Linked DNA regions of Homo sapiens. The protein of the gene in region 6 purifies or fractionates together with the protein of the main gene of each other region. This does not show direct contact. Each region holds a gene or a part of one and is shown on either strand. Other genes may lie near its edges.

Region 1 (3,500 bases), on a different chromosome or scaffold from region 6:
TTGGCATCCTTGCGTAGCTTCTGGAGAAAGAGTAAATAGCAGCTAAGTTTTTGAAAATTGCATGTCTGGAAGTTTCTGTATTTCCAGGTACAGAATTCTGGATGTCCAACATGAGAGGGAGAGCCAGCTCATCCCTGGCATATTCCTTTGGTGGGAAGAAACAGAAAATAGTGCTGTGTGCTCAGGCATGTCCTTCCCAGAGCTCTGCGTCCAAACCAAGAAGATGGTCAGCTCTGCTATGTTTTGAAAAGGCAAATTTGTTCCAATGATTGATATTATTTGGAACAATTTGAGCATAGCATGAATTTCATGTTTTCTTATGCACAACCTCTTATCCCGAGACTGCAGAAAACTGCAGTGTACCCAGCTGAATGGAGCCACTTAGAAATACACAAACATACACATGTACACACCTCGAGGACAATGAGCCACACTCATTCACATTTGGTGTCACAACTTTTCATGTCATTTCAGAGAACCCTAAACCTCAGGCATTTTTCAATGGAAAGTTCCATCTCTGTCATAATATTTATGTAATTTTTTTTTTTTTTTTAAAGACAGAGTCTCACTCTGTTGCCCAGGCTGGAGGGCAGTGGTGACATCTCAGCTCACTCCGACCTCTGCCACCCAGGTTCAAGTGATTATCCTGCCTCAGCCTCCCGAGTAGCTCGGATTACAGGCATGCACCACCACGCCTGGCTAATTTGTTGTATTTTTAGTGGAGGGAGGTTTTGCCATGTTGGCCAGGCTGGTTTTGAACTCCTGACCTCAAGTGATCCGCCCACCTCAGCCTCCCAAAGTGCTGGGATTACAGACGTGAGCCATTGCACCCAGCCAGTATTTTTTGAGCATGTAATACATGTCAGTGTTTTACCATTTTGATAGGAACCCTAATCCGAAATTCTGAAATCCGAAACTTTCTGAGTGTCGACATCATGCTCAAAGGAAATGGTCATTGGAGCATTGTGGATTTTGGATTTTTGGAGATTTGGAATGTCCAACCAGTAAGTACAATAGAAATATTCCAAAATGCAAAAAAAAAAAAAAAAAAAAAAAAAATCTGAAATACTTGTTGTCCCAGGCATTTCTGATAAGGGATGCTCAATCTATATAACATTCCTATGATTTTTTAATGGGTCACTGAGGAAGTTTTTGAATGTTATGTCCCTAACCCCATTTTTCTCATAAGCCCTGTGGTTTTGGATTGCCTGATTTTGCATAGCGTGGTAATTTTTAGGAATACATATGTCACATTATGGCAGAATTGTCTGTAAATTTATTCATCCCAAAATGAAATATTTTAAAATTACAAATAAGGAACATGAATAATTATCCTTCTCTCTTCTCCTGCTATCAGATACTCAATGAAATTGTTTTCTTAAAAGAGCCAATTAAGGCTGGGCGCGGTGGCTCACGCCTGTAATCCCAGCACTTTGAGAGGCCAAGGTGGGCTGATCACCTGAGGTCTGGAGTTCTAGACCAGCCTAACATGGAGAAACCCCATCTCTACTAAAAAATACAAAATTAGCCAGGTGTGGTGGTGCATGCCTGTAATCCCAGCTACTCGGGAGGCTGAGGCAGGAGAATCACTTGAACCCGGGAGGCGGAGCTTGCAGTGAGCTGGGATCGCACCATTGCACTCCAGCCTGGGCAACAAAAGTGAAACTCTGTCTCAAAAAAAAAAAAAAAAAAAAAAAAGAGCCAATTATACCTAATGAAAATTTAAAAACAGGCTGGGCATGGTGGCTCATGCCCACAGTCCCAGCTACTTGGGAGACTGAGGCAAGGGGATTGTTTGAGCCCAGGAGTTCTAGTCCAGCCTGGGCAACATAGCAAGACCCCGTCTCTAAAAAAAATTTTAAAGAAAAGGAAAATAAAAATAAAGTTTTTCAAGTTGACATGTTGTGAAAATTAGTTTTGATAACATTCACACATCTTCTTGCACGCCTTCTACTATGGATGAAAATATGCCAACCTCACAGGATGAGGGGGATAGAAAGAGTTCTATGTGCTCCCTCCTATTTGAAGATCTAAGGAGCTAAATCTAACTGCTTTGTGAACACTACATCAACTATGACATAAACTTAATTTGGAAATTGCTATGGTTTAAATGTGTTCCCTAAAGTTCATGTGTTGAAAGCTTAATCCCCAGTATAGGAGTATTGACAGGTGAGACCTTTAAGAGGTGATTAGGTCATAAGGGCTCTGTCCTCACAAACGGATTAACGTCATCATTGCTAGAGTGTGCTCATTATCTTGAGAATGGGTTTATTATATTAGCAAATTTGGCCCTCTATTGCTCTCTCTCAAATATGCTCTCTTGCCCTTCCACCCTTCTGCCATGGGATGATGCAGCAAGAAAGCCCTTGCCAGATGCCAGCCCCTCAGTATTGGACTTCCCAGCCTCCAGACCTGTGAGAAACAAATTTCTATTGTTTATAAATTAGCCAGTCTCTGGTATTCTGTTATAGCAGCACAAAATGAACTACAGCAGAAATCAAGTACAGTATTATATAGCTGAGAGGTTGACAAAACACAGCACATAGGCTGTTTTTCTATGGCCTGTGAGTTAAGAATGGCGTGGTAGGCAGAATAATGGCCCCCTAAAGATGTCTACATCCTAATCCTTTGAATATGTGAGTTTATATGGCAAAGGGGAAGTAAATTTGCAGATAGCATTCAGGTTGCTCATCAGCTGACCTTAACATGGGGAAATTATCCTGGATTATTTAAATTGGCCCATTGTAATCATGGGGCCCTTAAAAATGCAAGAGGGAGACAGCAGAAGCAGGGTCAGAGCAACATTTTGTTGCTGACATTGAAGGTGAAGAGGCCAATAGTGAAGGAATGTGGGCTGCCTCTGGAAACCGGAAAAGGCACGGGAACAGATTCTCCCCTAGAGCCTCAGAAGAGAATACAGCCCTGCTAACCTGTGACAGACATTACCGTAACTTACAGAACTGTAAGATACCGCAGCAACAGAGACTACATGTGCTAGCACTGCCTAAAATATTTACGATTTGGCCCTTTGCAGAAAAACTTTGCCAACTCCTGGTCTTATGACGTTTATCCCACAAGATTAGATTCTTTGGCCTGTTTTTACTCAGGAACCTCAGTTCTCATATGACTAGCAGTCCAGGGGAGGACAGAGAATATCATCACCATGGCAACTTTTCCCCTAAAGCTAGTCCTGCTTCTACTCAAAAAGATGATCATGACTACCTTTATTCTAGGTCTTTAAAAAATTGTGGCTAGAAGGCAGCATCCATTTGCCATTCTGCCAGAGGATCTTTATTGACCCCCAAATAAAAACGCTGAAGAGCGTCACTGACTCAACAATAAACGGGCATGGTAACTAAAAGATAGCCACAGACTCTTAACACATTTCCCATCAAGGAGCAGGGTCTAGTCTCCCGCCCTTGAATCTGAGAGGGCTCTGTACTTGCCCAACAGCATATGACAGAAATTATGATACACCAACTTGCAAGCCCAGTCCTTAA
Region 2 (3,500 bases), on a different chromosome or scaffold from region 6:
GCACAGCCAGGGCTCCCGCATCACGGGGACAAACCCTGTTCTTTGGGGCAGGAGATGAATTTGTTGATTTGTGTGCAGGGATCCCAACACACTATGTATTGTGAGCATCTAAATGTGAGAACCCATAGTGCATCCTAGCGAGATGCTCACGCTGTGAGATGCCCTCAGAACCAAAGCCCACTGAGGAAGTTGCAATTCCCAGCCCCCTCCTCATGTTCTCTCAGAGCGCAAGCAGGGAGACCGGCCGGAATCACCATCCCTGTTGAAGCTGCAGCTTTCTTTCTCTTTTCACCCTTACGCAGAATTGAATGCATGTGCACAGCATGGGCGTGCGAGGCAACGCCATCCAGGCGGCCTTTGTCCAGTCCATGGAAACTGACACAGGCCTTACTGTCAGCCCTCTTTCTAGCTGCCTCTGATGGGTCTTAAAGAGTAAATTGTTCTCTGACCTTTGACCAGATCTGTCAGCCACAGAAAAACAGCCCCTTCCTTCCTGCTACCCCACAGAGATGTGTCCGCCACAGCCTGCGTCTCACAGATAGTCTTAGACACCTGGCCACACCCCAAATTCCCCGACTTCAAAGGATCTTTTCACACCAAAGATGCAATTCCTGGGGCCAAAGCTCAAATCTTAAACCATAGGGTTCCTAGTTTTTCAAAAAGATCTATTGTCAAATTACAGAACACTCCAAAGAGAAGTGACAGATGACTGTACTAAGGCAATGGGTGTTCGCAGACAATATCTTTCAGGCAGGTTTGACCCCCATCTCCTCAGAAGGGTTTAGGTAGCACCTAGCTCCGTTCCAGGCTCAGTGAGGGACACCATTACAAAACAAATGACCAGCCACCCTATCATCATTAATTTGGTGCTATTCTAGGTCAATAGAATTTAATTAGCAATAAATTTGAGTTTCTTCAATGCTTGAGGCCCAAGGATTGAAAAGTAAACTAATGAATGTGGCTATGAACTTTAATCCCAATTTTGCCATTAGATACCTTGCTGACTCCCAAGCAAGACTTTCTATCTTGATTTTTCTTATATATGAAATCAGGAGAAAAGAGATCTGTACAAGTGCATAAAAAACGAGAGAGGAAAAAAAGAACATTGAGATGCTCGCTGGCAAGGTCACTTAATTTTTCTACCCTGCAATGTGCTCTATTATAAACCTAACAGGGAGAAAGTGAGAACACTGCCTTCATTTGCATAACTACAGGGCATCTCAGGGCTCATTTTTCTAATCAGTTTGGCTCCAGGCACCAGGTAAATGGCACAGCCGAGCATGTCGCAGAAATACTAAATAACCACTTACAAGTGGAGACAGAGGAAATAGTGAGAAGGATTCAGATCTCGAGTCAAGTAGGAGCAGCTGGCAACCTGTCCCAGTGACAAAGTGCTGCTTACAGAAGGCGCTCTGCACTAAGCCAGTCCCTATGTACCATGTCACAACTGAGAAACCAGCCCTCTGAGCTCCAGCTAGCATGCTGGCTGGTAAAATATGGAGCCAGACTGTCCTGCTGGTACCTCAGGAGTGGCTGTGAGGCCCATCAAGGTTAAACATGAGCAGAAAATACATCTCAGGACTCCACAATCACTAAGCCAAAGGGAAAAGTCAAGCTGGGAACTGCATCAGGCAAAGCTGCCTCCCATTTTATTTCTAGATAAGATAGCTGCAAAGACAAAACCTACATACCTCCCTCACAATTGGCCCACAAAGAACTTCCGTGTTGGGCCCCCAGACCTGTACCCTAAAACAGTTCTGTTGAATTTCACCCTGGCAATGTAAATTGACATCTGATCTTCTCAGGTGCGGGACAAAGGACAAAACTCAAAGTCATCCCTCTGCTCGCCTGAGACGAATGCATACCTGATTGCTTCACGTGCCTTGTGTTTATGTTATCTTCTATAAAAATGCAGATTCAGTGAGCCAGACTAAGACACAAGTGACTTTTCCTCTACCCTAAACAAACATGTAAATTGTGTATTCGGTTGATCAAAGACTGATCAACCAAAGGCTGATCAAAGACCCAAAAGAATGCAATCGTTTGTCTCTTATCTACCTACACCTTTAAAAAATTTCTTCCTCTTCCCCCAGTATCCACTCCTTCCCCTTTAAATATTAAGGCCCTCAAAATCATCTTTGAGGAAAGGCATAGACCTGCCTCCCAGGTGTGCATCCTTAACGTCGGCAAAATAAACTTTCTAAATTGTTGACACCTGTCTCAGACACTTTTGGTTTACAGTGGGTTTGGGAAACTGGGAGTGTGAAGCCAGGTGAGAAATAATTATCACATCTCTTTGTTAACAGAAGAAAACAAACTCTGTAAAATACTTAAAGAGGTTTATTCTGAGCCAGTGTAAGTGACCATGGGCCAGGGAACAGTCTCATGAGGTCCTGAGAAAGCTCGCCCTAGGTGGTCCAGTTACTGTTTGGTTTTACACATTTCAGAGAGACAGGAGTTACAAGCAAAGACATAACTCAATACACAGAAGGTATACCTTGGTTCAGCCTAAACAGGTGGGATATCTTGAAGGGGCTTGGAGGGTGGGGGTGCTTACAGGTCTTAGGTAGATTCAAAGATATTTTTATTGCCAGTTGATTGAAAGAGTTAAGTTTTGCCTAAAGACTTGAAGTCAGTAGAAAGAAATGCTTAAGACAAAGGACAGTTGTGGAGGCCAAGGTTCTTGTTATGTAGATGAAGCCTCCAGGTAGAAGCCTTTAGAGAAAATAGATGGTAAATATCTCTTTTCAGACCTTAAATTTGCCAGACTCTCATTTAATCTCTCCTAGATCTTGGAAAGGCCTAGAAAGGGAAGGCTTGATTGCATTAATGGAAATGCTCTACAGATGTAAGTATCTCCCACAAGAGATGGTTTTGCAGGGCCATTTCAAAATATGTCAAAGAAATATACTTCAGGGTAAAATATTTTTATTTTCTTCAGGGTTTGCTACCTGTTATGTGACGCTATACCAGAGGCAGGAATTTGCTACCTTACTGCCACAAAGAGTCTGTTTTGTCAGTCTTATATCTCTATTTCAATGTTAATGCCGATCTGCTGTGCCTAAACTCCAACAGCAAGGGGGGGTATAACAAAGCATGTCTGAACTCCATTCCCATCACGGCTGGGAATTCAGTTTTCAGGCTTCTCTGGGGTCCTCTTGATGAAGAGCGGGCTTGTTCAGTCAGTTGGGGGGCTTAGGATTTTACCTTGTGTTTACACATCAATAGGAAACATCAAGCCACTAAAAATATTAGGAACCTTCTACAAGGTCACTAAGCACTCTGCTAGCTCCATACACCACACTGCAGCTCGTCCTTGAGCAGCAGAACTTCATTGTCAGTCATTTTGGTTCTGGAGTCCAGCTGTCCGGCTTCCTCATCCCAGCTCGGCTGTGGATGAGCTTTGTGAGCCGACACAGCTAATTCCCTGGCTGTGCCTCTGTGTCCTCCTCTATAAGCTGTGGGTGATGATGGTGACATCACTTCACAGGTTGTAGTGA
Region 3 (2,589 bases), on a different chromosome or scaffold from region 6:
AGCAATTCTTCTGCCTCAGCCTCCTGAGTAGCTGGGACCGTGGTGTGTGCCACCACAGCATTTTTAGTAGAGACAGGGTTTCACCGCGTTAGCCTTCTCAATCTCCTGACCTCGTGATCCACCCACCTCGGCCTCCCAAAGTGCTGGGATTACAGGTGTGAACCACTGCACCTGGCCCAGTTTTTTTTTTTTTAGACAGAGTCTCATTCTGTTGCTAAGGCTGGAGTGCAGTGGTACAATCTCCACTCACTGCAACCTCTGCCTCCCGGGTTCAAGCGACTCTTCTGCCTCAGCCTTCCAAGTAGCTGGGATTACGGGCATGCACCACCATGCCCAGCTAATTCTTCTATTTTTAGTAGAGACAGGATTTCACCATTTTGGCCAGGCTGGTCTCGAATTCCTGACCTCAAGTGATCCGCCTGCCTCGGCCTCCCAAAGTGCCGGGATTACAGGCGTGAGCCACCGTGCCCAGCCCCCACTACAGTTTTTATGTGAGGTCTGTCCCCGGAGCCAATATATTCATCAGCTACAACTTTGGCCAGAAGAAATGCAGATGGGAGAGGAGTGAAGGAGAAGGCAAGGATGATTCTCACCTGGACAGGTGTTCTTGTTGCAGGCAATAGAACAGGCTTCTAGCACCTTCTCAGCCCTTCCACCATCTGTGCCTTTGGAACGGAGATCCACAAGGATCAAATGGTTGTCAGAACCACCTGGAAACAAAGTTGGACATGTAGAAATGCAGGCGAATTCTATGCCGTGAAGGAATCTCTGAGAAACGAAGGCGAGGATGAAGGCAGTCAAAGCAGATGAGGTCAGGAAGGTGAGCACCCCCACCACATGGCCTGGGATTCTAATCCCCACGAGAGATGCCCGTGCCTAAGAATGTGAAAGGAAGGACAGAGCACTTTTGAAAGGGGTAACTGATCATACAGCAGAGGGCCTGACACTCCCATGGGGAAGGGACAGCTTCCTCAGGCTGCTCCTGGCTTGTTTTCTCTGACAAGTTGCTTGGGCAATTCCCTAACATTGATGGTAAAGGCTCCCCTGAAGGCAGCATGAATATTGGGCAGCAGTTCAATTTACTTTGGGGGGTAAGGGGCATGTTCACAGAGCACATTAGGTGCCAGACACTGTAGCCTGTGGTAGGTTTTTCCCGGATCCTGTGAGGCTGATGGTATTATCAAAGTGGTAAGGTGACAACAGCAAGGCTAACAGAGTTTTCTGGACCTGGCCCGAGGTCATACAGGAGGATCCTTCCACTTTGAACCTTCATTAAGCTGGGGTAGTGCCTTGGGTGCTGACAGCACTGGGGCCTCTGCTTCTGAGCTGTGTTGCGGGGATCCCTTTCAAGATGCGGGTGAGCTAGGGCTCCAGCTTGGCTTTGCAGCCCCCCAGCTGTGCCCACCCACTTGCCGTGTGGCTTTAGGCAGGCAGCTCAACATTGTGAAACCTCAGATGCCCATTTGTAACAAAAAGACCAATAATTCACAGGGCTGTCATGAAGTTTAAGTAAGATACTGGACATAGTGCTTCTCATAGCACCAGGCACCAAAGAGGGCATTTGCAAGCATTATCTGTCTCAGCCATGTGCATCGGGTCCTCAGATGGCAGAGTGACAATGACACAGTCACCAGGGAGAGGGCAGGCCCATGCCATGAGATGCCCATGGTGACAGGGACTATGGCCTAAACCCTCACAACTCCAAGGGTGGCTCCCAGACCAGCATCACCCAAGGCCTGGTCAGAATCTGCATTGCACCAACAGCCCCAGGGGTGGTGTGCACATTGAAGTTTAAGAAACAGGGACCTAAAGCAGTGGTCCCCAACCTTTTTGGCACCAGGAACTGGTTATGTGGAAGACAGTTTTTTCACGGATGGCATCGGGGGATGGTTTTGGGATGAAACTTCCACCTCAGATCATCGGGCATTAGATTCTCATAAGGATGCAGGTATAATCAGAAGGAAAAAAAAGATAGTTTCTTGAAAGTGTCTAGGCCCAACCTAGATCCCTCACATGTGCAGTTCAAACCAGCGTTCAGCTCCTCTGAGAATCTAATGCTGCCACTGATCTGACAGGAGGCGGAGCTCAGGTGGCAATGCTCTCGGCCCAGCTCACTTCCTGCTGTGCGGCCAGGTTCCTAACAGACCACAAACCAGTACTAGTCCGTGGCCCGGAGGTTGGGGACTCCTGAGCTAAAGCACCCTGAAGTTCACAGTCTGCACGAGGACTTCTTGAGCTTTATTATTTGAAGACATGGAGGATGAAGGGAGAACAGAAAGTAAGTGAAGTAGAACATAAAAGAGGGTACGGCTGGTACTGCTGAGGAGACAGCACTGGCCCGGCCTTCCCAGGCACTGCCGCACATGCAGGATTGGGTGGGAGCCCCACTCCTTAGACCAGGAGGCCTGTAATCCCTCCCCAATCCTTAGATCAGAGGGCCTGTAATCCCTGTAAAGGGCAAAGGACACGGTGCAGAGAGTGGGCACTCAGGTCTACACACAGCAGGACCCATATTCCTGGACCACACCACTGCTAGCACAATCGGCAGTCTTGTGGGACTAGGTATAAAGTCGCCCTTCCTCCGGAGGA
Region 4 (2,717 bases), about 17 Mb from region 6:
ATATCCAGACCAGTTGTTTGAAAGCACAGCCGTGACCTGGCCAGACTCCATCTAGTTAAAGGAGACAGCTGGCCGCCTTGCCTCAATATGTACCATTTAAGGGGATGTTCTCTGTGCGCCTGGCCACAGACATCCATTTGAGGACACTACAAGCAATTTTGCACAGACAATATTGAGAATGCAAATTTAGAGAGAGTTATCATTTCTCTCAATGTGTATAATTGTTTTTACAAACAATTGTGTTTTCTTTATGTTAATTTAAACTTACACAGCTTATATTGAAAATTTCCTTTCATCTGAAATTTATTTACAAATATTCGTGTTCATTTTCCTGGTTAAGCATGCTATATTTAGAAACTCATGGGGAGACCTTAGACTTTTGTTTAATCCTTTATGTTTCAACCTTTAAATGTTCCATTCTTATAGTATTACTTTAAATCAATTCTAAAACTGAACTTTGTTTTGTTACATAAATGTCGCAGGCAAAAATAACACTACTTATAGATTTTACCTATTATGGTAAAAAATAGGAACATATTGTCATTCTTTTTTTTTTTTTTTTTTTGAGACAGAGTCTCACTCTGTCGCCAGGCTGGAGTGCGTTGGCACAATCTCGGCTCACTGCAACCTCCGCCTCCTGGGTTCAATCGATTCTCCTGCCTCAGCCTCCTGAGTAGCTGGGACTACAGGTGTGTGCCACCACGCCCAGCCAATTTTTTTTGTATTTTTAGTAGAGACAGGGTTTCACCATGTTGGCCAGGATGGTCTCGATCTCCTGACCTCGTGATCTGCCCGCCTCAGCCTCCCAAAGTGCTGGGATTACAGGCTTGAGCCACCGCGCCCGGCCGGTCATTCATTCTTGCAACAAGCATTTATTGAGCACCTACTGTGTGCTCACAGTAAAGAAACGTGATCTTATCCCAGTAGAGGTAGATATTCTGAAAAAGAATAATTCTTAAACTGCTTAAAACAGGGGTCCCCACCCCCAGGCCACAGACCAGTACCAGTCCGTGGCACTGGTTAGGAACCAGGCCACACAGCAGGGGGTGAGCGGTGGGTGAGTGAGCACAGCTTCATCTGTATTTACAGCTGCTCCCCAGAGCTTGCATTACTGCCTGAGCTCTGCCTCCCGTCAGGTCAGCAGCAGCATTAGAGTCTCATGGGAGTGCGAACCCTGTTGTGAACTGCACATGCGAGGGATCTAGGTTGTGCACTCCTTATGAGAATCTAATGCCTGATGAATCTAATGCCTCATGATCTGAGGTTGAATAGCTTCGTGCCGAAACCATCCCCCACCCCCATCCCGCTACCCCGAGTCCGTGAAAAAATTGTCTTCCATGAAACCGGTCCCTGGTACCAGAAAGGTTGGGGACCACTGGCTTAAAATACCAATAAATTTTTGAACCTTAAAAACTTTGAAGAACAAGGTAAATTGGTGTTTTATTTAATGTCCTACCCTTTAATTTGTTGCATTTTCCTATACTCTTTACACTATTTTATCCCAAACTATGTATATGAGGTGAAAATATATATGAAAAGGGATACTGAAGAATATTTAGTTTAAAATTAATTTCTTACGATCACGAGCACATGGTGGCATAATTACAAAGCTTGGAAGTATTCAAATAGAAAATCAAAGGTGTTTCAATACAGTAGAATCCCAGGACTGCATTTTAAAATCGCCTCACAGATCACACTCGCTGGTGGCAAATATCATCATCGTTGCTAAAGGACAGAAAATACTGATGTGTGTTTTAACTAACTGGTATATTGATCCATGGGAGGCTGCACAGAAGACCCTGCGGCCAGGAGGGGCATTGTCAGTGGCTGCTTCTCCTGAGCTCCACGCCTTCATTGCAGCTGCATGTTCGATACAATACACCTGCTTCACAGCCCCATGGACATCCCTACAGGTACTGTCATGTGAAGCCTTGCCTAGTAGTTCTCTCCAGGGCAAATGAAGCTCACAGTTTTGCAAGGTGGAAACCTCTTATTCACATTTGCTTTGATTCCCCGATGGAGTAGACTGCCTTTGTTCCATACAGGCAAAGTAAGGATATTTTAATATCATCCTACTTCTTATTAGCATTTCATTTGTCTATGTACTGTATTTCATTTGTATGTCTCCTGAAACATCCAAATAGAGAACATAAGAACACTTTATGTACAATCTGGAAAAAAATTACCTGAGAAATCAATTAAAGATTTTTCCCCTTTTCTGATTGCCAGAAATGTTTTTATTAAGTCTAGAGAATGATTAACTGATGAAAATGTTGCATTTACCTCTTCATCAATTTTAGACTTTTTATGTGTAGGGCAGAGGAAATGATATAGATTTACAATTTCTTCACATCAGTTTTTTGTTGTTTTTTGTTGTTTTGTTTTTTGCATCAGATGGGTTTAGATATTAAGTGGAAATGTAAAAGAGAAACAAGTGGCAGGGCTCAGTGGCTCACACCTGTAATCCCAGCACTTTGGGAGGCTGAGGTGGGCGGATTACCTGAGGTCAGGAGTTCGAGAGCAGCCTGGCAGACATGGTAAAACCCTGTCTCCACTAAAAATACAAAAAAATTAGCCGGATGTGGTGGGTCGCGCCTGTAGTCCCAGCTACTCGGGAGGCTGAGGCAGGAGAATCGTTTGAGCCTGGCTGGCAGAGGTTGCAGTGAGCCAAGATACACCACTGCACTCCAGTCTGGGCGGCAGAGGGAGATCCCGTC
Region 5 (3,500 bases), on a different chromosome or scaffold from region 6:
TTGGTTCTATGATGGAGGTTGGAGGCAGTGGGCAAAGAGCCCCTGGGACAGGTGGGGATTGTGGGGAGGGTCAGGCCTTCTTATCTGGAGATGCTGTGCCCCAGCACCTCTACCCTCACTGCCCCCTGCTCTGAATTCTCGCTGCCCACTCTACCCATCTGCCCCGAACATGCTGGGTACATGGGATTGGGTGGTGGGTGGAAGGGAGGGGCAGTGTATGCCAGCTTTGGAACATGTGGCCCCATGGAAACAATTGGTGTTTTTTGTTTTCTACGCAGACATAGTCAACTGTGACCTGAAATCTACACTACGAGTGTTGTACAACCTCTTCACCAAGTACCGTAACGTGGAGTGAGGGGCTGCCCTGGGCCCACCACTGCCCAAGAGTTCTTGCTGTTGGCGTACTGGACCCTCCTCCGAACTGCCTTACCCTGCTTATTCCTGTCTCTTGCACTGTGCTCTCCCACAAGTCCAGCTGCAACCCAGAGATAGTGGAAACTGAAATTAGGAAGGAAATCATCAATAACTCAGTGGGCTGACCCATCCCTCCCAGGCGCTGGGGACCAACCTAGCAATGAAGGTTGGGAAGGTTGTTCCCTTCCCGGTGCCAGGTCCAGATTTCCCTCCATGATTTGGGAACCAGCTTAGGCAAAAGAGTCCCCACAAGATGAAAATAAAGATCCTAGTTACCATTCAAAGGATGCTAACTGTGTGTCAGGCCCCACACTAAGTGCTCTGCTCTGATATACTCAAGGCCATTAATCTTCAGGACTCCCATTGACGTAGGTGTTTCATTCCCCTTTTACAGATGAGGAAACTAAGGCTTGGAGGTTAAATGACTTGCCAGAAGTTGGAATTTTTTTCCTCTTTGAACATAACCTCTCCCTTCTCCCTAAAGGTAACCACTATTCTGAGTCCAATCATCAAGGTTTTGCTTTTCTTTTTAGCTAAGTATGCATTCCTCAATAGTAGACAGTACAACATGTTTATAACAAGCCAATTACATTATGTTCTTTGCATGTTCTAAAGTTGTGTATGTGTGTGCACATCTGAGCACGTGCACATGTACACCTGAGCCAAAAACACGAGAACCCACTGATCTCACCACTGGGGCAAGCTAGGTCAGAGCTTAGTGATTCACACTGAAATTGGCAAATTGGATTTAACCCAATTAATAGTGTGTGTGTGGCAGGAGTCATGTCCCTCACATCCTTTGTACAAATGAAAATTACTCTTAATTCCTTCAGATTTATAATAACTCTGTACTTTGGTTTCAGGGTGACATTTGGGAAGGATTTTGTTTAGAATTAATGGAGTGGCACATTTTGCAGCCTTTTTGCTTGATTGCATGTAATGGAAATGCCCTATATTTTCCTGCAAAATAAGTACTAAATTCATTATCGTTAAGCAAATGTACAATATGCTCAGGCACCGCAGAGAGCTGGGCACGGGCCCATGTGAGCATCACTTTGGAAGTAGGGCTCTTCAACAGGGACCCTTGAACTTTAAAGAAAGGAACTTCTTTTTGCCTTCTAATTGATCATTTAGACTATTCTGGCTAAGTCTGCCCACATGTAATTACCGGCTAATTCAAGCGAGGAAAAATGTAAGTCATTTAGACCAAAGCCAAGCAGTTTCTTTGCGTGGGTTACTCAAGGGCTTGTGGTTACTTGTATCTCCTCTATGTGAACTTGACTTTGAAAGACAGAGCTCTAGTGTGCCAGCCTGCTAAGTCCTGTAAGAATAGGGAAGGGCGGAGGGGGGTGGGCAGTGACTAGGGGACGAGAAGCATGGGGAAAATATTTGCACTCTAAACATACAGAGATAGAGGTGGGGCTTGTGGTACTTAACACTTGTAGCCATCAACTGACTGAGACCTTGGGCTAAATAATCAATTGTGCTGATATTACATCTCGTTATGGAATGTTCCTAAATATGCCAGGTAGACACCAGCCCAAGTACCCTCCTCCAGAAGTCTGTGACTACCTTGTCACTACTTTAGGCCCATTCCACAAAGCCCATCTCTGGTTTGAGAATTCATTTTGATCTGTATCTACACCACCCAAAGTTAGGCCTCCTATAATGTCCAAAACATTCCTTTCAGCCTTTTTATTTCTTACTGTACTGTCTCTTACTGTACTGTCTATCTGCAGTAATTGAGGACCCATAAAATTTAGATAACTACATGTCTTTGCTCTTAGAATTGTCACTCAGCATAATGAGCATTTAACATACAAAGGCAATGTACTGTTTTGTGTTGATCTATGTAAAAGAATACAATTCTTTTTTACATAATTAGTGAAATTTTATTTTTTATTAGGAAACACTAAATAGTGTAATATTTCTTTTGCTTTTAAAAAAATTCCTGGTAGCAAATCAAGATAAATAATTGCTTCATTTTCTTGAGCAATACTGAAGCAGGATGAAGTAAGAGGAATGCATTCATTTAAACATGCTTTGCTTTATGAATTTTGTCTCTTTTTTGGTCTCTTTTTCTTATATTCAAGTTACAAATGTACAAGTATCCTTACTAAGAGTGCTCCTTTTGTATTTTACATATATACAGTATGAAAATACATTGGAACACTAGGAAAGTTTTTAAATAACAGTTCTAATTTATCAGAAAATTGTGTTTTGGGATTGAGTTCTTTGTCTCAGCCCAGAATCCCAGGTCCTGGGCCTGGTTTTCTAATGCTGTCATCTCAGTTCGATATTTTACTTTAGAACCTGGAATCTCCTACTTAATATATGACCATGACTTTGAAAGGCAAAAGAGGAATCAAGAATAAATAAAACAAACTTAATCTTCATCTTTAAAAAAAAGAAAAAAGAAACCAAAATGAGAATCAACACTTCATAGGCTCACTGGGTTTTCTTTTCTTTTCTGTTAATTTAAACTCAGTTATTTTTAATGCTTAATACATACATGGTGCAAAATTTAAAAAGCGCAAATAGGTATCTAGTGGAAAACCTAAGCCTCCCTCTCTCCTCCGGCACCCATTACCTCTCCCTGGAGGCAACTGTTTTGATCCATTTCTTACACACACTGCCAGAGATACTCTAGGCATGTAAAGCACAAACATACATATAAAATCTGCGGGCTTCAAAAAATATAAGTAGGATGTCATCTATACTGTCATACACTTTGTTTTTTATCACTTAATGTTATATCTTGGATATTGTATTACCCTGGGTATTAAAAAGAACTCCTTTCACATTTTAAAATAACAATCTGAGCACTTCATAAATCCAAATGCGTATCTCCAGTCTGCTCGAGCTAGGAAAGGAAAAAAGCCCTAGCCGAAGGAGGAAAGGCTGCCTAGACAATGATTTCAAAAGTAGAGTCTAAAACCTATGGGGTGCAGGACCAGAGGCTGGGGCACATTATCAGAGGCATCCTCATGTGCCTCGAACCGAATGTTTTTAAGTCCTCTTTTGGAACCTTATGGTGAATTGTATGCAGATTGATGAAGGTTTCATTTTTATATATTACCAGGACT
Region 6 (3,500 bases):
GTATGAGCTACTGAAATAGAATAAGCTTTGAAATCTTAAAATAACTTAATATATCTATATAAAAACATGTACACAATAAATATATACATTTGTCAATTTAAAAAATAAAAATTAAAAAAAAATTTTTTTCAAGACATAAAGTGAGGCCGGGTATGGTGGCTCACACCTGTAATCAAGCACTTTGGGAGGCTGAGGCAGGCAGATGGCCTGAGCTCAGGAGTTTGAGATCAGCATGGGCAACATGGTGAAACCCTGCCTCTACTAAAAATACGAAAAATCAGCCGGGCATGGTGGTGTGTGCCTATGGTCCCAGCTATTTGGGAGGCTGAAGTGGGAGGATCTCTTGAGCCCAGGAGGTGGAGGTTGCAGTAAGCTGAGATCGAACCACTGCATTCCAACCAGGTGACACAGTGAGTCCCAGTATCAAGGAAAAAAGAAAAAAAGGCATAAAGTGATATTAAAATATAACTTGGCCGGGCACGATGGCTCACGTCTGTAATCCTAACACTTTGAGAGGCCGAGGCAGGTGGATCACCTGAGTCCAGGAGCTCAAGACCAACCTGGGCAACATGGTGAAACCCCGTCTCTGCTAAAAATACAAAAATTAGCCTGGCTGCAATGGCACATGCCTATAGTTGCAGCTATTCAGAAGGCTGAGGTGGGAGGATTGCTTGAGCCCCAGAAGCAGAGGTTGCAGTGAGTTGAGATGGTGCCATAGCACTCCAGCCTGGGCAACAGAGCCAGACACTGTCTTTAACAAATACATTTTAAAAAATAATAAGTCAAAGGTATTACACTGGGATTGGCTGCATGTCTTCAAGTAGAGAAAGCAATCAATACTCCATTGATTTTAAAAAGCATTCTATTGTGTGTTTTTGACTTTTTTTTTTTTGAGATCACTTCGGCTCACTGCAATCTCTACCTCCTGGGCTCAAGCCATCCTCCCACCTCAGCCTCCTAAGTAGCTGGAATTACAGGTGTGTGCCACCACGCCCCACCCATTTTTTGTAATTTTAGGAGAGGTGAGTTTCACTATGTCGTCCAGGCTGGTCTTGAACTCCTGGATGCAAGCAATCTGCCCACCTCAGCCTCCCAAAGTGCTGGAATTATAGGCATGAGTCACTGTGCCCAGCCTATTTTGTGTAGTTAGTCTTTGAATAAATTTTGTAAAAATTTTAGGTTTTTTAAAATTTAATTTTATTATTATCTTTTATTTTTGTAGAGACAGGGTCTCACTATATTGCCCAGGCTGTTCTCGAACTCCTGGGCTCAAGCAACCTCCTACCTCAGGCTCCCAAAGTACTGGGATTACAGGCATGAGCTACCTCGCCCAGCCTTAAGCTTTTATATTGAGCTTTTTTAATCTATTAAGGATTACATTTAATGTAAGTGTGGCTGTGACATGTTCTTCAAGTTGCTACACAGTTATTCCTAAACCAAACTGATAAAAAAAGTTAATTTATTATATTGAACATCCATTTTGATTCACTACCCTGAATTGCAATTTTATGCCAGTATCTTATTGTTAACTTATGCTTTAGGATATGTTTTAATATTACTTACCTCTTTTGCACCAGATTCTTTGAGCAGTTTTATTATAGGTGAGATGGTATTGCCTCTGACAATTGAATCATCTACAAGAACAATTCTTTTGCCTTTAAAGTTGTCTGACAATACTCCAAATTTTTTTGCAACACCAAGTTGTCTTAACCTCATGTTTGGCTGAATGAAGGTTCTCCCTACATACCGGTTTTTACACAGCACCTCCACATATGGAAGTCCACACTGATAGAGAAGAAATGAAAGGATAATGAGGAGTAATATACAGAATAGGCAAATATTTTCTCTAGGTTGTGTTGCCGCCACAATATTCAAGTAAAATTTCAAAATAATTTTCCTTTATTATTTGGAAAAAAGGCAAAAAGAAAAACCACTAAACAAAATATACTTGGTGGAAAAACCAATTCATTTTGTGAGGACTCATAATGTTTTTGTCTTAAACATTATTCCTCTGTTTTGAAAGATAACAGTAAGCATATGAAGACATGACAAAGATTAAATCACTGTCAGAAAAATTCATTATCAAAATGATAATTTTTAAAGAAATGAATTAAAATAAATAAATAAAAACCAGTAGACCAATGAGATACTTTTTAGGGATAGGAAGTAATTAACCCATTTATCAAGGTAATCTTTTCTAAAATGTATGCATATTAATTCTTTTAGAAGTTAATAAAGTATCCAAGGTAGTGAATATTGGATGTTATACCCCAGGATTACTACAGTTACACCATCTACCTGGTTATGAAAATAAAGCGTAACACTGACAACATCATGCTAAATGAACATAAACAGCTTTATTATTACCCATACTTAGTAGCAAGCAAATATTCCAGTGACTTGTGAAGATAATTCAAGACGTTTATTTTAATATTAAGTAAATTTTTCCACTGAATATATAGTTGATGAACACCATGGGTTTGAAGTACATGAGTCTACTTATAGGTGGGTTTTCTTCCATCTCTGCCACCCCTGGGACAGCAAGTCCAGCCCCTTTTCCTCTTCCCTCCTCAGCCTACTCAACGTGAAGACAACAATGAGGATGAAGACCTTTATGAAGATCCACTTTCACATAAGGAATAGTAAATATATTTTCTCCTCCTTATGATTTTCTTCAAAGCATTTACTTTTCTCTAGCTTACGTTATTGCAAGAATACAGCATATAATACATATACAAAATATGTTAATCAACTGTTTATGTTATTGGTCAGGCTTCCAGTCAACAGTAGGTTATCAGTATTTAAGTTTGGGGGCATTAAAATGCATACACAGATTTGACTGTGCAGAGGGTTGGCACCTTTAACTCCCAAATTGTTCAAGGGTCAACTGTATATTCATGATGTTATCTTTTTAAAAAGAAGGGTGCCAATTTCTGAACGCTTTAGTGAACGTTTTTTTCTTTTCAGTGAACCTTTTAGTGGTTTTCACTAAAATAGTGCCATTGGATAAAAAGCCTGGAAAATAAAAAACGCTTGTAAACAAACCAACATTAACCACCAAAGCTTCCTTTCTCCTTAGAAATGTTGATGAGTTTCTCTTTATAGGCAAGGGTTTCTTATTCCACAGCTGGGAGAGCAATTCACTGCATGTTAATTAAGAGAAAATACCTTTCCTGCGTAAGCAAGAGCAGCAGGCGTAGCAGATTCTGGAACAGTGCTAACCAAATCTGCATCCACAGGTGCTTCAATCGCTAGCTGCTGGCCACAACGGTATCTTACTGTATAAACCATTTGGTCTGGTGTGTTTGGAAAAGGAGAGAGAGTATTTTTACTTAGCATGATATAACAGTGTTATTCTAAAAAACTAGTGCTAGAATTCTACAGATTGAGTATAAAAAGAAATGCAATATATACAAAAATATGAATGTGAAAATACACAAACTGGGGAACTCAACTGTGTGGTTTTAAAAAAAAAATCGACCTTCATATAGATCTAGAAA
Region 7 (3,500 bases), on a different chromosome or scaffold from region 6:
AAAAGATAGAACTGCAAGCCAAATTACCAGGAAGAAAATAGGAAATAATGACAAGTAAAATTAATAAAATTAAAAGCTAACCCAAAGAAAAGATGAACAAAGCTGGAAATTGGTGTTTGAAAAAGACGAATAGAAACAGACAACCCCCTGGCATGGTTGCTTTTTTAAAAGGGCATAGGCCGGGCACAGTGGCTTACTCCTGTAATCCCAGCACTTTGAGAGGCCGAGGCAGGCGGATCAAGAGGTCAGGAGATCGAGACCATCCTGGCTGACACGGTGAAACCCCGCCTCTACCAAAAATACAAAAAATTAGCCAGGCGTGGTGGCGGGTGTCTGTAGTCCCAGCTACTCGGAAGGCTGAGGTAGGAGAATCACTTGAACCCGGGAGATGGAGGTTGCAGTGAGCCAAGATTGCACCATTGCACCCCAGCCTGGGCGACAAGAGTGAAACTCCGTCTCAAAAAACAAAAAACAAAAAAACAACTAAACAGCTGGACGCGGTGGCTCAAGCCTATAATCCCAGCACTTTGGAAGGCCGAGGCGGATGGATTACCTGAGTTCGGGAGTTCAAGACCAGCCTGACCAACATGGAGAAACCGTTTCTACTAAAAATACAAAATTGGCTGGGCATGGTGGCCCATGCCTGTAATCCCAGCTACTCAGGAGGCTGAGGCAGGAGAATCGCTTGAACCTGGGAGGCGGAGGTTGCAGTGAGCCAAGATCAAGCCACTGCACTCCAGCCTGGGCTACAAAAGCGAAACTCCGTCTCAAACAAACAAAAAACAGAGCAATGGACCTGAGAGGGGACAGTGGCCACAAATCTTCCTACAGAAACAACCCCCTGGCATAGAGAGTGTTGCCAGTGGGTTCTACCAAAATGCAAGCACAAGAGAATTCCAGCCTGAAGCAAACTCTTCCTGCAGAAGGAAGAAAGGGGAACACTTCCCAAGCCACCTTATGGGGCCTACAGAGCCTTGGTACGGAAACCTGATGAGAAAGGCACATGGGAAAACCCATACGCCTCATTCACACACACATGCAGATGCAGAAATCCCACACGAAATATCAGCAGGCCGGGCACAACTCACACACCCCAGCACTTTGGGAGACCAAGGTGGGAGGAAGATTGCTTGAAATCAGGAGGTTTTTTTTTTTTTTTTTTTTTAAAGACATGGTCTCACTCTGTCACCTAGGCTGGAGTGCAGTGGCACGATCTCAGTTCACTGCAACCTCTGCCTCTGGGCTCAAGCAATCCTCCCACCTCAGCCTCTGGAGTAGCTGGGACTACAGGTACATGCCAACACACCCAGCTAATTTTTTGTATTTTTTGTAGAGACAGGGTTTCCCCATGTTGTCCAGGCTGCTCTTGAACTCCTGGGCTCAAGTGATCTGCCCGCCTCAGCCTCCCAAAGTGTTGGGATTACAGGCGTGAGCCACGACGACCCACTGACCCTGTCTCTTTAAAAAAAAAGAAGAAAACATCAGCAAACCAAATCCTGCAATGTTAAAAACGGTAGGTTTTTTATTTACAGAATAAATACATCTGTAAATAAAAAGTTGGTTTGATATTAACAGAAAAAAATCATTGAAATTCACCATATTAAGAGATTAAAAAAAACCTCTAAGAACTCTCTGCCTACTGCTATGTTTTGATTTTTTAAATCTAGCAATCTTGCTCAACCCAACAGATGTAGATCAAGTGTTTCAGAAATCACCTATTCACGCTAAAACTCTTAGCAGAGGGGGAATGCAAGGGAACTTCACTAACTTGATAAAGGGCATCTATAAAACACCATTCTGGCTGGGCGTGGTGGCTCAAGCCTGTAATCCCAGCACTTTGGGAGGCCGAGGCGGGGAATCGCTTGAGGTCAGGAGTTTGAGACCAGCCTGACCAACATGGTGAAACCCCATTTCTACTAAAAATACAAAACTTAGCTGAACATGGTGGTGTATGCCTGTAATCCCAGCTATTCAGGAGACTGAGGCAGGAGAATCGCTTGAACCAGGAGGGAGAGACTGGAGTGAGCCGAGATCACACCACTGTAGCCTGAGCAACAGAGCTAGACGTCGTCTCAAAAAAAAAAACCACCACCAAAAAACAAAGAACAAAAAAACCCCCAAACCATCATCCTTACAAATACTACAAATATCACACTTATAGGAAATGCTGAAATATTAATCATCCCTTTAAGCAATCAGGAACAAGAAAAGTGCAGTAAGGCAAGAAAATGAAAATGGCTGAAGTTGAGCTGTGAGGTGGTGCGGGTGCTCCCTCTGATCAAGTGAAACACACACCTATCCTGTGACCTGGCCGTTCCACCCCAAGAGAAATGAAAGTGCAAGTCCACACAAAGACCTGCACACGAATGGTCACAGCAGCCTTGGTTCATAGCGGCCCCAAACTGGAAACAAGTCAAACACTTGAATTAACATGTGACCCGGCAAACTGTGCATTCATACAACGGATACTACTCAGCAACACTGGGAAATCTCAGCATCAGAGATGCAACCCATTGTGACAGAAATCAGATCAGCGGTTGCCTGGAGCAGGGCAGATTGGCTGGGAATGGGTACCCAGGAACTTTCTGGGGAGATGACGATGGCCTTTATTGTGATGAGGGTGTACAGCCAATTGTACAGTTAAGATTTGCGCACCAACAAAAGACGGCGAGAAAACCAACAATGGAGCGGAGGGTGGGGAGTGGGTCAGAAATGACCCTTTGAGGGCCAGTGACTGTGAGAGCCCCAGGTGAGGGGGCTTCCTGGGTGCAGAGCATATTCTGTTTCTTGATCTAGGAGCAGTTTCTGTGGCTGTGCTGAGTTTGTGAAAAGTCATCAACAAGCTAGACCTGCACCATCTGTGTTCTTCATGACATGTATTTCTTTTTTTTTTTGAGACGGAGTCTCACTCTGTCGGCCAGGCTGGAGTGCAGTGGCGTGATCTTGGCTCACTGAAATCTCCACCTCCTGGGTTCAAGCCATTCTCCTGCCTCAGCCTCCTGAGTAGCTGGGACTCCAGGCACCTGCCACCACGCCCGGCTAATTTTTGTATTTTTACTAGAGATGGGGTTTCGCCATGTTGGCCAGGCTGGCCTCAAACTCCTGACCTTGTGATCCACCTGCCGTGGCCTCCCAAAGTGCTGGCATTACAGGCGTGAGCCACCGTGGCCGGCCCATGACATATATTTCAATAAAACATGGTAAAAACTAATAGTCTGGGCGTGGTGGCTCATGCCTGTAACCCCAGCACTTTGGGAGGCTGAGGAGGGTGGATCACCTGAGGTCAGGAGTTCGAGACCAGCCTGGCAAACATGGTGAAACCCCGTCTCTACTAAAAATACAGGCCAGGCGCGGTGGCTCATGCCTGTAATCCTAGCACTTTGGGAGGTTGAGGTGGGTGGATCACGAGGTCAGGAGATTGAGACCATCCTGGCCAACATGGTGAGACCCCGTTTCTACTAAAATACAAAAAATTAGCTGGATGTGGTGGTGCGCGCCTG

What was found.
Region 1: the proteins of PPAT (region 6) and PRPS2 fractionate together in Homo sapiens (co-fractionation; one large-scale study listed by BioGRID). This does not show direct contact.
Region 2: the proteins of PPAT (region 6) and FAM167A purify together in Homo sapiens (co-immunoprecipitation; one large-scale study listed by IntAct). This does not show direct contact.
Region 3: the proteins of PPAT (region 6) and SHMT1 fractionate together in Homo sapiens (co-fractionation; one large-scale study listed by BioGRID). This does not show direct contact.
Region 4: the proteins of PPAT (region 6) and FAM114A1 fractionate together in Homo sapiens (co-fractionation; one large-scale study listed by BioGRID). This does not show direct contact.
Region 5: the proteins of PPAT (region 6) and PARVA fractionate together in Homo sapiens (co-fractionation; one large-scale study listed by BioGRID). This does not show direct contact.
Region 7: the proteins of PPAT (region 6) and G6PD purify together in Homo sapiens (affinity purification with mass spectrometry, with the first as the bait; one large-scale study listed by BioGRID). This does not show direct contact.

Annotation. Positions count from the first base shown.
Region 1 is NC_000023.11:12,794,412-12,797,911, reverse strand, and holds part of PRPS2 (ribose-phosphate pyrophosphokinase 2), read right to left. Parts: intron 1-3,500. UniProt on the Homo sapiens protein: Catalyzes the synthesis of phosphoribosylpyrophosphate (PRPP) that is essential for nucleotide synthesis.
Region 2 is NC_000008.11:11,425,254-11,428,753, reverse strand, and holds part of FAM167A (protein FAM167A), read left to right. Parts: intron 1-3,500.
Region 3 is NC_000017.11:18,329,962-18,332,550, forward strand, and holds part of SHMT1 (serine hydroxymethyltransferase, cytosolic), read right to left. Parts: intron 711-2,589; coding exon 594-710; intron 1-593. UniProt on the Homo sapiens protein: Interconversion of serine and glycine.
Region 4 is NC_000004.12:38,943,523-38,946,239, forward strand, and holds the end of FAM114A1 (protein NOXP20), read left to right. Parts: coding exon 1-35; 3' UTR 36-2,217; downstream 2,218-2,717. UniProt on the Homo sapiens protein: May play a role in neuronal cell development.
Region 5 is NC_000011.10:12,527,571-12,531,070, forward strand, and holds part of PARVA (alpha-parvin), read left to right. Parts: intron 1-278; coding exon 279-355; 3' UTR 356-3,500. UniProt on the Homo sapiens protein: Plays a role in sarcomere organization and in smooth muscle cell contraction. Required for normal development of the embryonic cardiovascular system, and for normal septation of the heart outflow tract.
Region 6 is NC_000004.12:56,397,616-56,401,115, forward strand, and holds part of PPAT (amidophosphoribosyltransferase), read right to left. Parts: intron 3,297-3,500; coding exon 3,169-3,296; intron 1,786-3,168; coding exon 1,564-1,785; intron 1-1,563. UniProt on the Homo sapiens protein: Catalyzes the formation of phosphoribosylamine from phosphoribosylpyrophosphate (PRPP) and glutamine.
Region 7 is NC_000023.11:154,536,847-154,540,346, forward strand, and holds part of G6PD (glucose-6-phosphate 1-dehydrogenase), read right to left. Parts: intron 1-3,500. UniProt on the Homo sapiens protein: Catalyzes the rate-limiting step of the oxidative pentose-phosphate pathway, which represents a route for the dissimilation of carbohydrates besides glycolysis.